Linked DNA regions of Homo sapiens: region 2 is linked to region 1. Evidence: fine-mapped expression QTL. Tissue or cell type: whole blood. Region 1 holds a variant in brackets; the other region holds the start of a gene. All regions are shown on one strand. Distances are between the middles of the regions.

Region 1 (8,106 bases):
CATGGTGGTGCACGCCTGGAATCCCAGCTACCCAGGAGACTGAGCCACAAGGATCGCTTGAACCTGGGAGGCAGAGGTTGCAGTGAGCTGAGATCATGCCAGTCTGGGCCACAAAGTGAGAGTCTATCTCAAAAACAAACAACAAAGAAACAGCATTATTTTTAAAAAGCAAACACAAGGTAGTTCTCTGAGGCATGTGAGGGATGTGTTAGATGCCTTCCATTTGTCCCACTCCCCATGTCAGATCTGTACTCCATCCTGCTCCACCTTTTTCTCCGCCCCTGGGTGCTGACCTGAGCAGATTATATAAGTAGAATCCCTTGCACATTGGCTTCTAGTTGAATTTGGTCAATGGGGAGTCCCAGCAGAAAGCTGGGCAGTGAGGGGAGGGAGGAGAGAGGTATGACGGTGTTTATTTCCCAGGTTCCTCATCAGGTTGCCTTGAGCTGGCAGAGGAGCCCATTCTATACAACTCTCTCCTTCCAGGTCCTGGGAATCTTTCCTTCCTCTCATCCCTTGGACCTAGGGTGGTGAGGGCTCACCTGCTTCTCCCCACAGGTCCCTTCACTCTCCATGCATCCTGCCTACACCTTTGTAAGTAGTTCCTTGATAAACCTTCTTAGATGATTGTAATTTGAGTGTGCTGCCCCCAGTGGTGACCCTGTTGTGATGGACAGGAAACTCTTACAGGGACAATGAGAAATTCTTAAAATATTGTGTCTGCTCTCAAAAAACTAACAAATACTTGGATGCACGAGCCTAACACTAGTGGGATTCTGTAGAAATGCAGCAGAGATTTAGAAAAGAGGTTCCCATGTGCCAGAATAGCTGGGGGAAACCTCTTGGATGGAGCGGGCTGAGGGGAATAGTTCTTGAAGGGAGAGGAGAAACCACTGAAAAGAGGCCAGAATACTGATATTGCCAAATAAAAGGGTGCACATTTTGGATATTAAATAACTGATGATTTAAGATAGAAATGGGGAGTAATAAGAAATAATAGACTGTGTCTAGCGTATGAAGATCTTGAGACCTCATCAGAGGAAGTTGTTGCATTTGAGACTTAGCATAATTCTGTGGCTGTGAAAACAGAAAAGAAAATTGCTTACCAGCTATTTAAAGTTAAGTACTTTGTGACAAGCTGGCTGTGGGATTGACTGTTTACTCATGTTGTGGGTAAACAAGAAGACATATTGAATCTTAACTCAGATTTTAACCGCTGGTACCTGTGAGTGTGACCTTATTTGGAAGTAGGGTCTTTGCCCCCATCATTAAGATGAGGTCCTACTGGATGAGGATGGGACCTAAATCCTGTCACTGGTGTTCATATAAGAAGAAGAAAATTTGAACACAGACACCCAGGAGAGTGCCAAGTGATGACCGCGACAAGGGTTGGGGTGACGTGTCTAGAAGCTGAGGAACACCAAGGTTGCGGCAGACACCAGAAGCTGGAAGAGGCCAGGACCGCCTCTCCCCTAACGCCTTCAGAGAAAGCACAGCCTGGCCACCACCTTCATCTTCGATTTCTGGCCTCCAGAACTGAGAGAATGAATGTCTATTGTTTAAGCTGCCAGTATGTGGCACTTTGTTACAGTAGCCCTAGCAAGCTAACATTCAGTATGTCTGAAGGGTAGTCAAGAGGAAGCTAGAAATTAAGATGTCGGCCCATGTTTGGAGTGGATTTAAGCCAAACAGCGTACTATGTGTGCCCTGCTAAAAATTATAATAACGAGAAATTGTTACAGCCTAAGAGTGACCCCAGGATTTGTAACTGACGTTGAGTGCCCAAGAACTGCGTGATAAGTCTATTAAGATAAAATTATTTCAAGTCCTCACTTTCGTTTCTTTACGTTTTCTCTCTTTTCCTATTAGCATATACACATCCAGTGGTCATTTGAAGCCCGGGTGCGTCAAGTGGTAAAAGCTTTCCCTGCTAGCTTATGCTGTGGGAACTAACTCCCAAAGTTCAGTGGCTTCAACAAAGCTCGCTTCTCACTCATGTGTTGGGCAGGCGTGGCTCTGCTGCTCTTTTTTCTGGAAACTCTGCAGAAGGCATAGGCAGTTCTAGTGACCAAGGGGAAAGAAGAATGGCAGAACCGCGTAATAGCTATAAAAATTCTCTCTGGAATTCACACACATTCCATTTGAAAGTCAGTCTCATTGCCAAACCTGATGTCAATGTGGAAGTGAATCTGTTCCTGCCACAGGAAGTTACTCCAGGTCATGGCAGAGTGGGCAGGGGTATGTCATCCTCTTCCTGGGAATACAGCAGGTAACTGAGGACAGCAGTATGTTCTACCCATGTTCCCTCTCAGTCACAAATGTGAATGTGTGTCCCTTCTGCACTCCACATCTGTGTCTTTTGAGAAGAAATTGCAAAAATTCCACTCAATTATAGCATCAGGCCCAAAGTGCAGGCACTCATGGGGGCCTCTACAGCAACTCTAGATGTGTCTTCTCTCAGTCTAGTCACAGATGGATGCCCGTCTTCCCCGACGTGCGGTGGAGCTGGGAAAGATCACTCCATTGAGAACAGGGAGAATGAATGCAGCCTGACCCAGTCACTGGTCCAGAGCGCTACGGACATCCCCGTGGGTGGATGTGGGAAGGGTTCCCCACCTCAACTGCCACTACCAGTTAAACTTCAATAAATTACGTTGCAGCTACACAAAACTTCTGAATCTCATGAGTCTGTGCTCACAGGCACAAGGGTGAGGTTCGAGGAGTTAGCTTGTGAAGCTACTTGATCACTGCGGGGTGAGAACCCATGGGTAAAAGCTTTCCTTTCTTTGCCCCATTTTTTGAGACATTTCACCAGGCTCCTCAGAAAAGGCCCCATTGATCTTGCACTGAGTCCCATTGGGTGGCCAGTTTGGTCACACATCCCACCCTCCCTGTTTCACCCCCTGCACCTGCACCCCTGCTCCCTGGGGTCACTTTCCCAGTTAAACAATTTGCACACAAGCCCTTGCTCAGGCCCTGCTCTGAGAGGGGCAATTCAGAGAACCCAAGCCAGAGCCAAAGCAAGTCACAAGGTGAAGCCCGCAGTGAACAGGGCAGGAACTGTAATCCTACAGGAAAGCAACCCATGGTGGGGAACAACACGCAACAAGCGACTGCAGTGGAAAAGTGGTGTTGTGGCTCTTGTTTCTTTGGTTGGGTTTTGGTTGTGGCTAAAGGCACAGTTCACAGTCCTCCGAGAGCATCTTAAGAGTTAGGATAATGCCATGGTTTCTAGTACATCACAGTGGACTTTCATTATTCAGAACTGTGTCATCTGCCCAGCAAGTAATTCCCTATAGTTTTCCAGAAAGCATTAATATGTTTACCAATTGCTGGTTCTTTAAAGTTAATGATTCTTCACACTGTGTTATCTACATTTGTCTGGGGCAGCTAAATTACTCCCAGTAACTTTGCACACACAACTGAGCACTAGCTTAACTGACATCATTAGGTGGCATCTAGAAGCTGTACTTGTTCAGATTCTGTGAACCAGCAGGGAGACAGCCCAGCATGGGACTCGTACCTGCATCTTCTCAGAAAGAGGCGTGTATACACAGAGGAACGGCTTCTTTTACAAAACAGTTGATTTAGACCTAACCTTTGTAGGTCTAGCATAGAGATGGACAAGTCCTAGGACTAAAACGAAAATACTAATCTAGGAAATAACAAAATTTTCTAAGTCAGGAGTGGCCAGCCTGTAGGGTGATTGAAGACTTCTATTGTTTCATTTATCGCCTTTGAAGCATGTGAAAATAAAACTGTTGTCACAAATTGTATTGGTCATTTGATTAAAAACACCCAGCAGCATTAACATGCCAATTGAACACACTTGTTTACACTAATTAAAAAATGAATGAATTAAGGATTCAAGTTTTGGAGAAGAAATTGTGCCCCATCTGCTTCTACTGGTGCTTTCCAACACCTTAATTAGATGGGCTACACTTAATTCCTGTGGGAGTTCCTAGGTCCCAGGTGTAGGAAATACACACTGAAGTAAGAGAGTCCTGAAATTTGGGAGATTCCCTGCAAATTGGGGCTACTCACCTTCCTGTAAGCAAGACCAAGTGTCTATCGAAGGTATTCTCTGCTGGCAAATGATTTATGGCGCTGGCTTTTGGGAATCCGTATTCGCTCACCGACTCCCACCCCGCAGAGTGCACCACGTGCTTGTCAGTTGCATGGAGCCTGAGAACAATGTAAAAAAATACTCCTGGCAGGATACCTGCTTAGATATTTTCAAGCTTAGAAAAATCATTTTTTCACACCTGTAATCCTAGCACTTTGGGAGGCCAAGGCAGGTGGATAGTTTGAGGTCAGGAGTTCGAGACCAGCCTGGCCAACGTGGTGAAAACCTGTCTCTACTAAAAATACAAAAATTAGCCAGTTGTGGTGGTGAGTGCCTGTAATCCCAGCTACTTGGGAGGCTGAGGCACGATAATCACTTAAACCCAAGAGGTGGAGGTTGCAGTGAACCGAGAGCATACTACTGCACTTCTAGCCTAGGCAACAGAGTGACTCTGTCTTAATAA[G/GA]AAAAAAAAAGAAAGAAAGAAAAGAAAAATTATTTTTAATGGCACCAAGCAACCCAACCTTTTTCTTTATTTGGTTGTTGTTCTGAGACATTTCCCAGAGGTTAGGAATTTATATCCAAAAATAATGTTGACAGGCATGACAGTTTGGGGTTGAAGAGAGAATTGGGCTTGTTTGCAAAATCTCTTTAATTTATCTCAGACATTTCACCAGCTAATTAATGAAGATCCCAAGCCAAGATCTAGTTCTGTATCATAACACCCTGAAAAGATTTTAACAGCTTCTCTAACTCTAACTGCCTCGTCTGTTGCTCCTGTTTAACACTGTGTCCGTCTCCAAGATGACGGGAGTCAATCTCACTTCTTTCAGAGACTACACTAAGGTTGAGAAAGGTGAGGCCCAAGGAATTCAAGTGAGTTTCTCATTGTCACAGTTACTGGCAGAGTCTGGGTTACGCTCTCCTTTTTAGACTTATTCTAATTCATTCTTTAAAAACATTGAAAGGAAAGAGTTTTAATTTCATATACAATAGAAATAGAAAAGAGGAAAACTCTCTAAAAGTAATATTTATACTACGGAAAAATCTAACTTTATTTTGGTTGAAAAGAGTATACAGATTTATATTTTTTGTAGCTAATACATATTTCTCTTTTGGAAGTGGTTGAAGTGGAAGAGACAATTTTATGTTTAATGTCTCGCGTCAGTTTTAATTTTCTGATTTAATTAGTTTCCTAATTAGAAGGGGTTAAATTAATTAACCTCATTATTTACTATATATTTAATGATTTCTCATCTATGGGGAGTTACTTAATTTTCAATAATTGGAAAGCTTATGACAAGAGGGGATATTGCCAAGTCTTACACTTATTGTTTTATGATCAGTGGCAGGAATAAGACAGATTAAGGGGAATTTTAGGTGAGATATCAGATACTTGCAAAGGTATTTCTTACTTGTTTTGAACCATGATGCATGTAAAAACTTGAGTTGAGACTCCATAATTTCTGTCCAATTTGAACTCAATGGATATGTCCTTTGTTTAAGGATAAAATACATCCTAGAACATAGACTTCTATAAGAAATAGCCCTGTCACATGATCTCAGTTATAGACAATAAAATAATCATGATGCATCAAATAATACTAAATAATTATAATGAAAAGGAGAGCTTCTGAAACTATCATCTGGTATAAATGGCATAATAAAATATTTAGTTTTTCCTCAGACTTGCCGGTGGACTAAATGGATGACATTTTGGGAAGAAATAACAGATTGATAAGCCTAGCAGCTATATGGCTTGAGGAAATCAATAAGCCATGTTATTTCATGTTTATAAATACAAACAATTTGTGGATAACTATGTTTTCATGTAGTGATGTGTTTTCCGAGAGCAAAAATGAGGCTGCATCTACAAAATGGCTGAATTTGCCTTCTCTTCCCACTTTAGAAGGGCCTCTGCACGGAGATTTGAGCAGCCAGAACTCTGCAGGCAGACACGGACAGAGAGAGGACACTGTTGCCCATTTCTCCCTGTCTCTGCATTGCTCCTTATCCACAGCACCACTACCTGGGAGAGACCCTGATCCATCAAGAGGTTATGTGAGTAAAGCTTGGGTACTGGTATGGTTTAAAACACAAGCCCAACGCATGTAGTCCAGTGAAGTGGTCTGATGATAGGAAATCCACTGTAGTTGAACAAACCTGTACTGAGCACGTAGGTGCATTGCATATAGGCTTTGTGTTGCAGTCAAGGCCCGTCCATGGAGTGACTGAGTTCCAGCCTGTAAGCAGCATATCAAATGCCAACGTGAGTTGCATAGAGTAATGGAATACAAAGTGTGAGATGCGACGGAGACAGGGATGTTTTGGGAGGTTGTCTTAGAGGAGGGGTCTTGAGAGACCTTCGAAGATCAACAGGAAGAGAAGGATGCCTGTTCCCTGTGGAAGAGAAGCCTGAGCAGAGGCCTGGGCTTGGGAATGAGCATGGTGGGCTGGCAGGACTAGCAGTCAGCTCCTGCCTGGAGGAAGATGTTGCGGGATGGAGCGCGGGAGACATGTACAAAGAAGCAGATTGGAGACCTTCGGGGAAAAGCTTTATATGAAGAAATGACTGTCCATATTTCTCATAAATTAGAATCCTACTATTTTCAATTCCTATCAAAAAAATTTACAGGCTGAAGTTGAGACAGTAAAAACTGGTATTCCATTTGATTCCATTTGGAAAATATCTGCCCTTATTCTGTTTATTTTATTTTATTTTTATTTTATTTTTTGTTTTATTGAGACAAGGTCTCACCCTGTCACTCAGGGTGGAGTGCAGTGCTGCAATCTTGGCTCACTGCAACCTCCGCCTCCCGGGTTCAAGCAATTCTCCTGCCTCAGTCTCCCACGTAGCTGAGAGTACAGACACGTGCCACCACGCCTGGCTAATTTTTGTATTTTTAGTAGAGACGGGGTCTCATCATGTTGGCCAGGCTGGTCTCAAACTCCTGACCTCAAGCGATCTGCCGGCCTCGGCCTCCCAAAGTGCTGGGATTACAGGCGTGAGCCACCGTGCCTGGCCTGCCCCTATTCAGTGTATAATAGCAGGCAAAATAGTGCTGCTAGTTCCACAATATCCAAAAAAGTACTAGCTAGACAATGCTGACTCAATGCTCTGGTTCCAAAATGTCCCATAGTTTCCCACCACTTGTAGACTGAAGTTCAGTCACCTTAGCCTGCCTTTCAGAGAACTCTCTAAGCTGTTGCTTTCCACCATACACCCCACCTTTGTACACCGTAGCCCGAGCACACTAGGCCCATGTCCTCCCACTCTTAGCAGACTAGACTACAGCACTTGACTCTCCAAACACATCCAGAACTTTCCCACCGCAGCCATGGCTGTGTTCCATCACCAGCAACCCTCTGCACTCATGCACCTGCACAAATCGCACCTGCTCTTCCTATGGCCAACCTTAGATGTCCCATTTTATGAAACATCTCTGATGCCTTGAGAAAGAATTTCTTTGGTCTCTTCTACTGTGATTTACATAAATATAAATGAATTATATAACTGGCGGCTCTTTGGCTTGGATCAAGGATGACTAACTCAACCACATGTGAGAGAGTTCATCTCACCCAACATAATGTCTGGTGTGGTGCTGCTGTGAACCATTTTCAGGGTAAGGAGTACAAACAAGGCTGGAGGGAGCCTCAAATGTGAGAGCTTGCCTTCATCCCAATACTTATATTTAAAGTATCAAAAAGACTGTATTCTAAAATACTTTGCCATTGCATCACCACCACCACCCCACTCCCAACCCCTCCAAGACTAAAACAAGTTTTTGTTTTTAAGACAGGGTCTTGCTCTGTTGCCCAGGCTGAAAGTGCAGTGGCGCCATCACAGCTCACTGCAGCCTCGACTTCACAGCACCCAAGGGACCTTCCCACCTCAGTCTCCCAAGTAGATGGGACCACAGGTACACACCACTGGCTACTTTTTACATTTTGTGTAGAAATGGGGTCTCAGACCAGCTACGGTGGCTCATGCCTGTAATCCCAGCACTCTGGGAGGCTGAAGCTGGTGGATCACTTGAGGTCAG
Region 2 (8,106 bases), 84 kb before region 1:
GTCGGGAGTTCAAGACTAGCCTGGCCAACATGGTGAAACCCCGTCTCAAGTAAAAATACAAAAATTAGCCAAGTGAGACTCTGTCTTAAAAACAAAAAGGAGGGCATATAAGGATTGGGCTTTTAAATAAAAATTTGGAATCCAATTTCTACAATATCCTGCCAGTCCTAAAATCCCACTCAACCATCTCTTCATTCTTGGTTGTAAAAAGCTGAGATCCTTTCTAGTCTGTCTGAATTAATAAAACATCCTTCCTTGGATATTAGGTGGCCTAAGTATATCACTTGTCTTCGACAAAATTGAAGTTTCTCTTTAGAGACTTTGTTTTCTTAGGGCTGCCTTTTGTAATAAATGTAGCCCATCATTCACAGAACATCTTGTTTGCTCTCCAAGATGGAAGTCATTTATTTACTGGATTAATGTATGCATTTCCAGGAAATTAACATCTGAGAGGCCTATTTTTAATATTTTTGAAAAGTAAGTCAGGCTTTCAGCATATCCTTGGAGGCCTGTGTGACCCAGTGTATTGTCTGTTTTCCCAAGTGAAGGCAAAGAGAAATTGGCTATTTTTGTCTACAAGAATGCTAAAGAATGTACTACATAAGTCTATGACTGTAAGGAATTCCACATTAGAAGGAATGGCTGTGAGTAACATAGGCTTGTGCAGTATAGGGTGCCATGGGATTGCCATGTTGTTTATTGCTCTCAAGTCTTGTACAAACCTCCATTCTCTAACATTTGGTTTTCTTACCAGGAGGATTGGGGTATTACAATGGCTTGTACAAGGAATGAACAGTCATCTTTCTATATAATCTGACATTATAAGCTTTATCCCTCCTAGAGCTTTAGTTCTCAAGGGGTATTGTCTTGTATTTTGAAGATGTTTCCATGGGTATATTTAAATATTTATTGGAGTAGCTGAGATGATAGTTTCTATATCAATGGAGGACACTGACCACAATGGATCAAGTACTGTCTTTAGTACATTTTGTAATTCTTCATTAAGCAATAATTCATTGTCTTTCATGGCAATATGGATTGCAATTGGATTAGATTTTGAAAATTTTATTAAAATATCTGTTGTGTCTCAAAGTTGAGTTTTATAATCTAATTTTAAATATATTTCCTTCCTTTGAGAGAAAGAAATGTGGGTATCACATAATTCTAAGCAGTTTCTTCCTGTTGAATGGATGGGGTCTGATGGAACAAAGAGGAGGGCATGAGTTCCTTGTAACGAACACTGTTGAAAGGTTACAGGCTGAGATTGGTATGCCAATACAGGAGGATTGTGATGCCCACCATTTGAATTCTTTGTTTACTGCAAGGAATGGGACCTTGTACCAAGATGGGATTAATTCCAGATAATGTGGCTCCAGTGTCAATAAGTGCTTGTGTTAGTTCTCCATTTATAATAATTTTTATTTCTCCCAGTGTTAGTAAGGAGGAAATGAAAGGCCCCTTTAAGTTCCTTGGAGCACCCCTGTTTTCTTTTCTGCCTCCACTGGTTAACATTCTTTCCTTTTTCATTTTTGGCAACTCTTTTGAAAGTAATCATGCTTTTTGCAAAAATTGCAAAGTGGAAGGTTAGGTCCATTAGGGAGTTTCTAGGGGTATTGTGAAGGCCAAAATTGTGTGAATAGTTGTTTTAATTGTAAATTCATAATTGTATTAGCCTCGCTCTTTTGTTTGGCTTCCCTCTCTCTTTCTTCTTCAGTTAAGGTATCAGATAACCGGTCAATGAGACTGACCAAATCATGAGTATCAGAAGTGGCCCAACTTTGTCTTTTCATTGTTAGTTCCAATTCATCTAACTCATTTGTTAAACTGGAGTCGAGTATCATTTCGATGATTAGCACAGCTTTCTTCGGATAAAACTAAATATTCTTTAAAATTTTTTCCACAGCCCTCAAAGTATATTACTGACTCATCTGAATTTTGTTGATATTGTATTTTGTTCCAGTTGACTACTCTGAAAAACTGAGGAGATAGCCTGATGCAAAGCCTTTGCTGTTCTTCAAGCCTGTCTATGGTCCTCTTCTGAACATTTATGAAGATCCCTAACAGATTTCTCCAGTGAGCTTTGTCTAGCCAGCCTTTAGCTTTAATTTTTGCTACTAACATGTGAATCTGTTGCTAGAAGTCAGAATAACTAGGGTCATAAGCTTGGATATTTAATTCAAATTTCCTAGCAAAACCAATAGGAACCTGGTGAAGATCAAGGAATTCTTTTAACTATGCCTGTAAGTTTGATCATGATTGATAAAGCAGGTTCCCCTCTACCAGATGCTGGATGAAATGGAGCCAAACCAGTGGGAGCAGGAGGAGGGGCAGGAGGAGGAGGAGGAGAAGGTCAATCAGGGCTGGGTAGTTCTGACAAGGAGGCTTAGAGAGACAGGGGAGCAGGGAGAGAAGAAGACATTTCAGTGTTTTTTAAAATTCAGTAATGGTTTTAGAGTGCTTTTTATTTTCTTCCTCTAAGGGAAGAATTCTGTCAAAACCTCTTTTGGATGCTTCTGGGTGCCATTGGAAGTAACTCTCTTAATTATTTTATTTGATTCCATAGCTGGCTTTTTAAAATTGTGCATATAAATAAACTAATCTAGCTATTTCAAAGATAATTCTCTTTGATCATTGTAATTTAGGATCTTCTTAGGTCAAATAAGACCATTTCTCCAACTATCGACAGGAGGTGGCGCCATAAGTCTTGTACATAAACCCCGCTGGAGTTTCCAAAGGTGCATTGCTTAATGAGGGCTTGGTTATAGATGGATAATTGCTCATAATTTGGATTCTCTTTTAAAATGCCCAAAGGCTAAAAGGGAAAAGTGTTTGGGGTCCAGTGTGCTGCTTAGTAGGGATTATTCCTGGAGGTATCACCTACAAGTAGCTTCTTCCCTCTTACCTACCTCAGAGAAACCCAGACATTTCTGGGAGTTCAAGGCACTGGGTGACGAACCCCTTGTGTGTTGTGTGCCCCGGGGGTTAAGCAGCTCTCCCTGTGAGTTCTTCTCTGGGGTTTGTTGTGAGCTTCCACACCCTTGTGTTACCTCCATTGCCTAAGGTGCCTTTCAGCTGGGAGAAAGAGTCCTTTTTGTCTTCAGCTTATCACGTCCTCATTCCAACCTTTTACAAATTTTGGGTGACTCAGGAAGAAACTTTAAATCTCAATGTTAACCAAGATCCAAAGCCTGGCTGGTTTAAAGCCACAAATTTGGCTTAAGCCACAAACATTCACTTTCTCCTTTTACAAAGAAAACTGCTTTCTCTTTAACCAAATGTCAAATGAGAGAAAAGGTTACAAACTTGAGCAAGTAAAAAAATGTCCAATGAGAGAAAAGGTTACAAACTTGAGCAAGTAAAATGTCCAATGAGAGAAAAGGTTACAAAAGAGCAAGTAAGACGAACGAAAACTTAACCTAATAGAAAAGTGAAACCACAAACCTGCCAATAGCAGAATCTTTAGAGAAATGACGCGAAACTCCTGCCTTAAAGCCCTAAATGGCGGCTTCAATATCAGTCCCACTGAGCATGAAATTCATTTACTTAAATAAAATCTGAATCTCAGCCCAAACCTGGGAGATTCAAAACCTGAGAGCGGTCTTACCAAAGACGCCCGTATGTCTGGTGAAGTCAGTTGGATGCAAGCAGTTTGTGCTGGTACCAGGGCCCCAGCTACTGATGAAGTGGCAGGAGTCCACAGAAGCCTACTTCGAAGTTCCCGGGGCTTCCAGGGGAGGTGAGAACACAAGTGATGGGAGAGCCTGGGGAGGGACTGTCTGGTGAGTAAAGGTTGTGCTGCTCTGTGGATGAAATGTCTCTGAGGTCGTAAACATCTCAGAGCCGCCTTCGGGAGAACGGGTGATAGTCATCTGGGCTGATGTCACCTCCAGTGTCCTCTCCTGTGATCTGTGTTAATCCTCCCAGATTGACGAGATTCCTGGGGAGGCGATTCATGACAGCTGAGTTCCTTTTGGAGGATCCGTCTTCAGGCAGGTAAGGGGAGCTCAGAGGAAACCTCTGCCTGCATCCGCTGATTCCCAAGTGCCCTCAGCTCACAGGGATCAGCACTCCCAAGTGCCATGGGGGTGGCATTTCCTGAACTCCTTCAAAGCAATAACAACAGGCTGGGCGTGGTGGCTTACGCCTGTAATCCCAGCACTTTAGGAGGCTGAAGTGTGAGGATTGCTTGAAGCCAGGAGTTCAAGACCAGCCTGGGCAACATAGGGAAACCCTGTCTCTACAAAGAATTAAAAGAAAACTTAGCCAGGAATGGCAGTGCACACATGTGGCCCCGCCTACTCGGGAGACTGAGGTGGGAGGAGTGCTTGAGCCAGGTGGTTGAGGCTGCAGGGAGCTGTGATTGCACCACTGCACTCCAGCCTGGGCAACAGAGTGAGACTCTATCTCAAAACAAACAAACAACAACAACAAAAGTGAAACAATAACAACAACTTTTACAAAACGGACATTTGGGATCTACATGCCACACTCCTAAATGCGTCTCTTAAGCAACAGGTGTCACAGTCTTAAACCTTGTCCTTACCCTCTTCATTCTAGGCACCTGTTTCATTCCAGGTAGGGCTTCCTCCTGGTTTCCTAACACAGCGGGTTGAGATGAACAGCAGAGAAGGACACTGCACACCTCTGCAGGGTCTCCCCTCTGGCCCACCAGCCCTCCCTTCTCCAGCAGTGAAGACCTCACTATGTCATCCAGGCAGGAATAATATAGACAGAAACCCCAGAAGCCCCAAAGCTCTGAAGCCTAAACCACAAGCCCCACGAAGTTCCACAGGGCCCACTGGGCAGAATGGCGTGAACCTTCAGGGTTTGTTTGGTTTTATGAACCATTTAGTCATTCTTTCTCCTTCCTCCCATGGTAGCACTAAAATACATTCTCAGGCTCCCAGGTATATACAGGGGGGACGGAGAGGCGAGGATATTCCTGATTGGAAAACAAAACAAAACCTACCTTTACTAATCTCAATATACAGATTAGGCTAATCAGATTAAATAATTCTGAAAGTTTTCAAAATGTCATTGTTAGATTTTTCATTATTTTAGAGAAGAGGTCTTACTCTGTTGCCCAAGCTGGACTCAAACTCCTGGGCTCAAGCGAACCTCCTGCCTCAGCCTCCTGAGTAGCTGGACTACAGGTGCGCACCACCATGCCTGGCTGAAATTGGTTTTTATTGAGGGTCTTGATATGAAAAAAAAGTCTTTGAATCTTAATGTTACTTTTTCATTTCTTCTTGGCAACCAAAGCATCCATGTTTTAATTTTTCTTTGTTTATTGTTGGCTGGAGAGCACTGCCTTCCTCATGTACCATGCATCAAGCCCTCTCCCCAGCCTGAAGAACACCATGTTCCTCTTAGCGATCATCAGTAACAAGGCGTGCCACTCGAAGAACTACAAAGATAAGGGTTTGGGGTTTGTGCTGGGGAAAGCTCATGACACTAGCTGCAGGAATAGAGGACTGAGCCTCCCAAGTCCTGGAAAGCAGAGGGAGGATGCCCCGCTCTGATTTCCTCAGCACCTTTGCAGAGCTCTTGGTCTCCTGCCTGTGCCCTGCAGGCCTGACTCACCTTCCTCTCTGCACGTGAGACTCTGCACACCTCCTATCGTGTTTATTGACGCATGGCAGCCTCAGCCCTCCATTTCATGTGACCTCCCAGCTTTGCTCTCTACAACACCTAACCCAGTCAGTTTCTGTGTCCTAATTCAAAATTGCTGGGAGAAAAAAAAGTCTGATTGGCATTTGAGTTTGAGAACGAAGGCTTGAAAGAGCCAGTTTGAAGAATGGGAGCAAGGCCTGGCTAGAGCACTGATCGACAAACTTTTCCTGTAAAGGGCTGGGTAGTAGATATTGCAGGCTTTGCAGGCCATGAAATCCACGCTGCATTGTAGTGGCATGCAAGCTGCCATAGCCAATCTGTAAATGAATGAGTGTGGCTGGGTCGCATTAGCATTTTATTTCCAAAAATAGCAGGTGGCCAGATTTGGCCCAGGGACTATAATTTTCCAATTCCTGAGATACTAGAAACAGAAGTGTTTTGTTGTTGTTTTAACTAACTCTTTATTGAAGTACAGCAAACAAAAGTATACACATTATAGCATTGTATGAACTATCACAGAGTGACTACACGCATGTAACCACCAACTGTGTGAAGAAAACATTGCCTGCATCCCAGAAACTATGTATGCACCCTTACTAGTCACTAATCTCACACTCCTCCCCAAAAGTAACTAAAACTCTGATTTGTATTGTCAGTGGTTTCTCCTGTTTTGGACTTTATATAAATGAAGTCATATTGTATGTATTTCTACTTTCTGTCTAACTTCTTTGTATGATATTCTCCCAGTGGAATTCATCTGTATTGTGGTTTGTACCAATGGTTCATTTCTTTTTATTGTTATTATAATATTTTATTGCATTACTATAATAGTATTTATTTCATTCTACTGTAGATGGACATTTAACATTGTTTCTAGTTTGGGGCTGCTGCATGTCTTTGGATGAATATGTGTACACATTTTTGTTGGAAATAGAATTGCTGGTCCAACATAGATAGATAGATAGGTAGGTAGATACATAGATAGATAGATAGATTTATTATTGAATATATATAACAAAATGTTCTTATTGTTCATCATAATTTCCAAATGACATTTTTTTTCTATTTGGTGTGGAATAACTTTCATATCTTCCATTAATTTTTTTAGACATAGTTCTTTTATTTGAACATGTTTTTGATACCTGGTTTAATGTCTTTGTCTAATAAGTCCAACATCTGGGCTTACTCTGGGACAATTTCTTTTGACTACTTTTTTATGTTTATAGGCCATACTTGCCTGTTCTTTTGTGTGTCTCCTAATTATTTGGTTGAAAACTAGACACTTTAAATAATATATCGACTCTGGAAATTAGAGTTGTTGCTGTTTTTGTGATTGCTGTTGTGGTGGTGGTTTATTTGTTTAGTGATGTTTCTGGATTGGTATTGTAAAGTCTGTATTCTTTTTTGTGTGCAGCCACTAAAGTATTTACTTGGTTAGCTTAGTGGTCAGCTAATGATTGGACAGAGAATTCCTTAAATGCCTTCAACCAATAAGCCTCCCCTTGCTCATGGGCTGTTTGTTAGGGTATGTCTTCAATGTCCCTGCAATTCACAACTCCACCTTAGTCTTCACTCCTGCTTGATCAGACCCTCAAGAGCCACTGGAGTAAGTACTTAGGGCCTTCCTGGTCTCTCTTGGGCCTGCATGCAGCCGTGCACACAGGAGGCCTTCTAATCCCCCAGGAATAAGTTGGAGCTTTTCAAAGCCCCTAAGAATATCTCTGTCCCTAGACTTTCCTTGTAAGTTTTATATCCAATTTCTTTTTTCTTTCTTTTTTTTTTTTTTTTTTGAGACGGTGTCTCGCTCTGTCACCCAGGCTGGAGTGCAGTGGCACGATCTTGGCTCACTGTAAGCTCCACCTCCTGGGTTCACGCCATTCTCCTGCCTCAGCCTCCCGAGTAGCTGGGACCACATGTGCCCACCACCACGCCTGGCTAATTTTTTGTATTTTTAGTAGAGACAGGGTTTCACCATTTTAGCCAGGATGGTCTCGAACTCCTGACCTTGTGATCCTCCCGCCTTGGCCTCCCAAAGTGCTGGGATTACAGGTGTGAGCCACCATGCCCGGCCTTTTATATCCAATTTCTTATCTGCCCTAAGTGGCACCACCACTTTTGACAGCTGGGATGTTGAACAGTTAGTGCTGATTGATTTTCACAAACACCCTGGGGATGGGGCTTTCCTCACTGGGAGATCTGAATCAGGTCAAATAAAGGTGAGCCTTGTGAATGGGGCTTGAATAGGAGCTGCCAGCCCAGGAGAAAGATTGATGATTCTCTGGGAATGAGGTTTTTGGGGCTCTGAAGCTGTCCTGCCCCTCTAGTCCGTCCATTAGGCTGTTGGTTTTCACTACTACCACAGTTCCAAGGCTGCTGTTTTTCAAGGCTGCTGCAGAGCTGATGGTGGTTGAGGGGGTGGGACTGGGGAAGAGGCAAAGTTAAAATTCCACAAAGCCTGCTGTTTACTGAGTTTCAGCCATTTTCTTTAACTAA

What was found. PIP is the estimated chance that this variant, and not a neighbour inherited with it, causes the effect.
Region 2: PAXIP1-AS2 starts here. The variant in region 1 is fine-mapped to the expression of PAXIP1-AS2 in whole blood (TOPMed, PIP 0.99).

What each region holds. Positions count from the first base shown.
Region 1 is chr7:155,009,116-155,017,221 of GRCh38, forward strand. No RefSeq gene overlaps it. Among named protein-coding and RNA genes, the nearest start is that of PAXIP1-DT, 9.7 kb to the left of the region's middle. The variant G/GA (reference allele first, on the strand shown) is at 4,530.
Region 2 is chr7:154,925,032-154,933,137 of GRCh38, forward strand. It overlaps PAXIP1-AS2 (PAXIP1 antisense RNA 2), which reads left to right and starts at 3,486. Exons shown (of 8, transcript NR_024476.1): 1 at 3,486-3,736; 2 at 3,925-3,993. RefSeq lists enhancers at 3,567-3,626, 3,647-3,746, 3,897-4,116.